Linked DNA regions of Homo sapiens. The protein of the gene in region 1 purifies or fractionates together with the protein of each later gene. This does not show direct contact. Each region holds a gene or a part of one and is shown in the gene's direction. Other genes may lie near its edges.

Evidence for each region.
Region 2: the proteins of HSD17B2 (region 1) and MBNL2 purify together in Homo sapiens (affinity purification with mass spectrometry, with the first as the bait; one large-scale study listed by BioGRID). This does not show direct contact.

What each region holds. Positions count from the first base shown.
Region 1 is NC_000016.10:82,037,949-82,041,779, forward strand, and holds part of HSD17B2 (17-beta-hydroxysteroid dehydrogenase type 2), read left to right. Parts: intron 1-3,831. UniProt on the Homo sapiens protein: Catalyzes the NAD-dependent oxidation of the highly active 17beta-hydroxysteroids, such as estradiol (E2), testosterone (T), and dihydrotestosterone (DHT), to their less active forms and thus regulates the biological potency of these steroids.
Region 2 is NC_000013.11:97,389,679-97,393,509, forward strand, and holds part of MBNL2 (muscleblind-like protein 2), read left to right. Parts: intron 1-1,643; coding exon 1,644-1,771; 3' UTR 1,772-3,831. UniProt on the Homo sapiens protein: Mediates pre-mRNA alternative splicing regulation. Acts either as activator or repressor of splicing on specific pre-mRNA targets. Inhibits cardiac troponin-T (TNNT2) pre-mRNA exon inclusion but induces insulin receptor (IR) pre-mRNA exon inclusion in muscle.

The sequences.
Region 1 (3,831 bases):
AAGGAAATAGTTGGTTAATGGTTGGATTAGACTATTTACGTGTTATTTTCTCTCCTGGATTTCAAATTTCTCTGGTGTGATTACATTACTCATACAATAAAAATACTTAAAAGAGAACACAAAACAGCTAAAGCTCCTTTTAGTTTGTATTTAATTTTGGACCCAGGTGAGAGGCAATTACAAAGACAAATTTAAAAAAATGACTTTTTTCTCCCCTTTGAGCCCTTTATTTCATTTTGCTAAGATGTTCAAAAGTCTGTTGCCTCAGAGACAATATAATTACAGTAAGAAAAAGTAAGCAAGCATAGAGTGTTTGAATACATATTTGTCTTCAAGATACCTGAAACCACAGAGGCCATTCAAATATTTAAAATGTATGTGTGATGCATTTTATTTTATTTTATTTCATTTTATTTTTTGAGATGGGGTCTCAATCTGTTGCCCAGGCTGGAGTGCAGTGGCATGATCTCAGCTCACTGCAACCTCTGCCTCCCGGGTTCAAGTGATTCTCCTGCCTCAGCCTCTCAAGTAGCTGGGATTACAGGCACGTGCTACCACGTTGGGCTAATTTTTGTATTTTTAGTAGAGACAGGGTTGTATGATGCATTTTAAATGTATAACTGTAAAATGAACAAAGAGCAGACCAACACGATTGTAATAACATCTCAACCACAACATAGTGGGAAAAAACTTTGAAGACACACAGGCTTGGGTTTGAATCCTGCATCTACCTTGCCTTAGGCTAGGTCCCCAGAGGCAGTGCTTTCTGTGAGGATTTGTGGGAAAGATTTATTAGGAGGGTTTCCAGAGAAGATGGGCAGGGAAAAGGAAGAAGCCAGGTAAGGGTGAGACATTGAGAAGTCCTCTGAAGATCACTTGGGCTTGATCACCCTGGGCGGACGTGGGGTGGTGTGGATCACTCATCAGAGCTGTGCCAATTGGAGACTAGAGAGCTGTAGTCTTTATGCCTTCACACCAGTCAATCATTAGTTAAGGGCAGTCACCCCTGTTCCCCCTTGGTTGTGGGCAGGAGGGGAGACTTAATTCCATGCACTTCTGGCACCATGTGGACACTGGCTGGCAAAGTGGGTTCTGGTCCTTTGGGGAAAGAATCGCAGGTGCTGGCTGCTGGGAGTCAAAGTGCACCATGGATTGATGCACACAACAGTGGGAGGGTTCTGGGGGAATAGCATCTTATTTGCTGCATCTTTATTACTAGCTGTGTGGACAGCTGTGTAAACTTTGGTGCTCGGTTTTGGATTTTGGGACTCTGTTTTCTCCTCTGTAAATGGAAAATAATACACACACACACACACACACACACGCACAAACACACACACACCCCTGCATATGTTATACTACTATAGATGGAGTTAGCAGATGAGAGAGAGAGAGAGAGAGAGGGAGAGAGAGAGAGAGAGAGAATGACTGTATTGGGGTGGTGAGGGGAAAGCTTGAGTAGTTAGGAAGAACATGAAGGAACAAAAAGAACAAAAGAAAACGTTGACAAACAGAGAGAAGAAGCATTCATGTATTCACTCAATAAATATTCATTGAGGGCCCAGTATGTGCCATGCATTTTCCAGAAGCAAAGGGGGAAGAAAATTTTAAGACCAGGAAATTACTGTCAAGCGATGGGATCAAAATTCCTACTTTTCCTTCATCTTGGACACACATTCACTGGAGTTCCTTCCCCCTCTTCTGAGGTTACACGTTGTCCTTCTCAGCCTACCCTCTAAGCTTGGCAGGAGATGCACAGGTAACTTTAAGTTTCTATCCTCTGGCCTTTCATCCTGCCCCCTCCAGTCATCTCAAATATTGAGAACCGACTCAGCATCTACTGTGTACAGAGCAGACACCTCAGGGCTTCATGGACCACTGGGGAAGACACGGCCACACCCAACTGTGGCTGTGTGATGGGGCACATAAGAAACCTCCAGGTTCATTCCCAAAGCGGATCCCAGGCAGACACAGGTCTTGTGTGTGGAGCTGGGGAAAGCTTGACAAAAAAAGAGGGACCTCGTTAAGAATCTAAAATTAGTTTTCTAGGGGGAAAGTGAGAAGGTATTCCAGCCTAATTGGTTAAGTAGCTACAACAAATACAGCTAGCACTCAATAAGGCTTGCTGCATTAGATAATTTTTAATTGAAAATTTCAAAACTGGATATATTGGAGAACGGATCCAGGAGGAGAAGTAAGATCTGTTTTCAGTGAAAATATTTTATGCTCACAAGAAAGTGTCTCACGTGAGTGATCATCCCTTCTTGCAATTACTGAACAGTCCAAATAAGGTTCTCAAGTTGAATACCATGGGTATCATCTTGGGGTTTGGACTCCTTTGGATTTCACGTTAGATTATTAAGATGGATAAACATTGACAGTGGACTAAGAGACTAAGAGAAATAACATCTCTGTGCTCTAACCTTTACATGCATTTTATATTTGATTCTCACAACCCTAATAATTCACATTTGTAAACAAGGAAATGCGTCCAAAGTCACTGAGCTACTAAGTAGCCAAGATTGGACTAAACCCAGATCAGATCCATCTCTCACCAAAAGCCATCCTCTTAACCACTGTCATTAGAAGTGTTAGATCCATAGTTGGTATTAGACCACAAAGGTTACCCAGGATATAAAACGTGTCCATTCAATCAACAAGTAAATATTGAACATCTGTTATGTGCCCATGACTCTGCTTAATACAGAGCTTGGCAATTGATTGGGTGTAGAAGATGCTTATGAGGGATGATGAAATAAGAGTACCATACACAGGGCTAGGGATGTTTGCAGAGGGTGATGATTTGAGACATGCCATGTGCTAAGCTTGACTTCAGAACTGAGTCTGAGAGCAGTGAAGGGTAGTTCAAGTGAAGTGTCACTGGAAATTGGAAATAATGAAATAGAACTTGGTTAGATTTGTAGATAGATGCTGGAGAAGCATGAGCAACAAAGTGATGGTGGATGTTGAAAGGATGGCCCTTAGTGAGTCTATAATTCAGTCTACCAGATGATTTTTACATGAACAAATGTCCCCACTTATCATGCGGTTTAAGTTTTACCTTTACCTACTACAGGGAAGCATAAAAAAGGTTTTGATAACCCGGGTAATTTTGTGAAAGTTTGAACAATGATTGTATCAGGCATTATAGATGGAGTGTTTTGACTGGGGAGTATTCTGACTGCATGGAAATCCATGCCAACTATACTGCAAGCGGCTTGAAGGCAGGAACCAGGTCTCTTTTTATGACCATGTGCCTCTTCTCAGTCTCTCAGCACGTTAGGCCTAACACAGTGTTAATGAGCGAATGCACAGTGAGTGAACCAACCATGTGGGTGAAACGTCCTCTCCTTTTCATGGTCGTTAGTTGGACACAATAGGATTGTCCCAATCTGCCCACTCACTTAGGTACTTACCTTTGCTGTTCTTTTTGCTGGGGTCATTTGCATAAAAAGGGCAGAGTGACATGGCTGAGCTGTTGGAAGCTCCATTGTTCTGTAGTGACTTAATTGTTGGCTTGCCCTGGACAAGGCTTTATGCTGATTTGGTTCTAAGCGTGCTCCTGCTTACCCAGGATGTGGCACAAATAGAACATCCACTGGCTTCCACCAGTCTGCTGAAACTGCTCTCTAAGTGTCACTGGTGTCCTTCTAATCACCAGAGCTTGACTTCTGCTCCAGCACTGCCGACCATACTTTCTTTCTTTTCATGGCCTCGTTAGCCTTGCAGGAACTGCATTTCCATGCTTCTTTGTCCTTTGACTCTTCCGGGTTCTTCCTACACTTCCTCCAAGGTAATCTCTGACTCTGTCTTTACTCCACCTTCTTATAT
Region 2 (3,831 bases), on another chromosome or scaffold:
CTGGGCAACAGAGGGAGACCCTGTCTCAAAAAAAAAAGAAAGAAAGAAAGAAAGAAAGAAACTGCAATTTTTTTTCCAGAGTTATTTTAGAAACTTTTTTTTTAAAAGTAAAAGAAAAAGAAAAATCAGACATGATTTGATGGACTAGGGTGCGTTCTTATTTGGAAAACTTACAGATAGGCTTGAAACTAAGGGATGAAATCAAAACATTTCTATTTAATATCTAAATCTAGAAAATTTGAATATTACCTATTGGCAATGATAATATTCAAAGATAATAGTATTCAAATACTAGATGCTGTGTTTACATATAAAATAATATCTTATTAATTTTATTCATGTCTGTTAGTACACAAGACAAGGAATGCTATTTTTCCCAGTTAATTTTACATTCCTAGGAATATTTAAGAATCAAAGAATGACCTTATCTGAAGTTTTAAGTTTCCATTTACTATAAATATTTAATGTAAATTAGTTCTTTCTCTATTTTTATGAATTCTCTACACATCTGTCTGTTTCAATAAAATAAAGAATACTCATGTTTATTTCATGGGAGGAACATATACTAAAATTGTTGCATATAAAGTACAGGAGCACTCACTTAAAGGGAAAAAATATCCACGTGGAGAAATTATACATAACAGGATAATACAGTATGCTTAGGAAAATAAGGCTTTTGTTGGGAATTGAATCCTAGTGTGCAGAAGTATTAGCTGACTCTCATTATAAACAAATTTTACCAGTTATTTCCTAACAGACTCTTGTTTAATGAATAAACGCTTTGCTTATTAATTACACAAAATTTGGTCAAAGCATTAGAAAAGATTAAATAGTTTTGTTACGGTGTGTTAAAAACTTGGCTTTTAACCTTGACATTTAATGGATTGGACCACACGGGCCAAGTTCCTTCTCCTTTGCAAAGGTATGGAGCTGGAAATGAACTTAGAGATCAGACTCAAGGGACCACAGCTTGCACTTAATAGTTTACCTTTATCTGTGCTTTAGCTGTGCTTTTGGATGTATTAAGAACTTTTTAACTGCCTTAATAGACTGTTATCCCTTTTACTCTTTGATATGTGACATTTAAATATACCTTGAATTTGAACTGGTTGTCGTTATGTGTTGGGAACAAAATTACTTTTGATGGGAATACATTTTTGAATTAAAAATGCAAGTTAATAGATAAATAATATCTGATTATTATAGATTTTGAAATATTTATATTTAAGCCTTACAAATGACTTTTCAGTACAAACAAATTCTCTGATTAGACTTTCTGATCACCGTAGCAAATATGAATTGGACAATAATGTGAATGTATAATAAAGAGCTATAAAGCAAAAATTTTAAAAAGAAATTGTGGTCTAAACATGCATGCCTCTCTATATGCTGCCACAGTTTTCCAGAAAGTACTGTGCATTTGAATCATCTTTCTTTATAGTGGCCACATAGCAGAAGTGGTTAAGTGTAAAGTTTTTCAGCATGAAGGGCGGGTATTGTGCAAATTTATAATTGCATCAAAATAATGAGAGATTGAAGAAAACTCTGATTTTCAAATGTCTATTTTTGAAGAGTAAAACTTAAACTCATTATTTTTCCTCCCAGAAGGATACCTAAATCATGCTTGTCTTTCTCTTTAACAGATAATTCTGAAATAATCAGCAGAAACGGAATGGAATGCCAAGAATCTGCATTGAGAATAACTAAACATTGTTACTGTACATACTATCCTGTTTCCTCCTCAATAGAATTGCCACAAACTGCATGCTAAATAAAGATGTAGTTCTTCTGGACAGACCACAACTCTAAGAAGCTAGTGCTGCTATCTCATATATGAGTATTAAATATGGTATGCTTAGTATATTCCAACCTAAGATAGTTAACTACCTGAGACCAGCTGTGATGTTTAAAGACATAAAGGATAAAGTTTACTTTTAAAGGGTTTCTAAACATAGTTTCTGTCCTAGGAATATTGTCTTATCTCCATAACTATAGCTGATGCAGAAAGTCCAGCCAGTTTACTCATTTCGATTCAGAATATTTCAAATTTAGCAATAAACAATTAGCATTAGTTAAAAAAGAAACATATTCCAAGGGCAGGTTCGATTCTAGCTCTAATTACTGTCATGTCATTTACCCACTGGATCAAAGGGTATGTTTCACTTCTTGACAATATAAATGCTGCAGCAAAGATGAGAGGTGAAGTAAAACCGATACCTGTCCTGCAGGTCTAAAATTTGAATGGAAATTCAAGCACAAGTACTGGGGACACATCAAAGTGTGGTGTTTGGTTTGCCTGGAGATGCCACGTTGAATCATGTGATTCTAGATTAACATTAAATAGATTGAAAAAGAAACTTTGCACGGTATGAGCTTCATACCCCACCAAACAAAGTCTTGAAGGTATTATTTTACAAGTATATTTTTAAAGTTGTTTTATAAGAGAGACTTTGTAGAAGTGCCTAGATTTTGCCAGACTTCATCCAGCTTGACAAGATTGAGAGGCCCATGCCAACAGTCTAATCTAAGAGATTAGTCTTTCAAACTCACCATCCAGTTGCCTGTTACAGAATAACTCTTCTTAACTAAAAACCTAGTCAAACAAGGAAGCTGTAGGTGAGGAGATCTGTATAATATTCTAATTTAAGTAAGTTTGAGTTTAGTCACTGCAAATTTGACTGTGACTTTAATCTAAATTACTATGTAAACAAAAAGTAGATAGTTTCACTTTTTAAAAAATCCATTACTGTTTTGCATTTCAAAAGTTGGATTAAAGGGTTGTAACTGACTACAGCATGGAAAAAAATAGTTCTTTTAATTCTTTCACCTTAAAGCATATTTTATGTCTCAAAAGTATAAAAAACTTTAATACAAGTACATACATATTATATATACACATACATATATATACTATATATGGATGAAACATATTTTAATGTTGTTTACTTTTTTAAATACTTGGTTGATCTTCAAGGTAATAGCGATACAATTAAATTTTGTTCAGAAAGTTTGTTTTAAAGTTTATTTTAAGCACTATCGTACCAAATATTTCATATTTCACATTTTATATGTTGCACATAGCCTATACAGTACCTACATAGTTTTTAAATTATTGTTTAAAAAACAAAACAGCTGTTATAAATGAATATTATGTGTAATTGTTTCAAACATCCATTTTCTTTGTGAACATATTAGTGATTGAAGTATTTTGACTTTTGAGATTGAATGTAAAATATTTTAAATTTGGGATCATCGCCTGTTCTGAAAACTAGATGCACCAACCGTATCATTATTTGTTTGAGGAAAAAAAGAAATCTGCATTTTAATTCATGTTGGTCAAAGTCGAATTACTATCTATTTATCTTATATCGTAGATCTGATAACCCTATCTAAAAGAAAGTCACACGCTAAATGTATTCTTACATAGTGCTTGTATCGTTGCATTTGTTTTAATTTGTGGAAAAGTATTGTATCTAACTTGTATTACTTTGGTAGTTTCATCTTTATGTATTATTGATATTTGTAATTTTCTCAACTATAACAATGTAGTTACGCTACAACTTGCCTAAAACATTCAAACTTGTTTTCTTTTTTCTGTTTTTTTCTTTGTTAATTCATTTAAACTCATTGAAAACATAGTATACATTACTAAAAGGTAAATTATGGGAATCACTGAAATATTTTTGTAGATTAATTGTTGTAACATTGTCTTTCTTTTTTTTCTTTTGTTTCATGATTTTGATTTTTAAAATTATTAGCACACAACTATTTTCAGCCCTTTAATAATGGAGCATCAAAAACATCACCTGTAACCCCAAGCAAATATAGAAG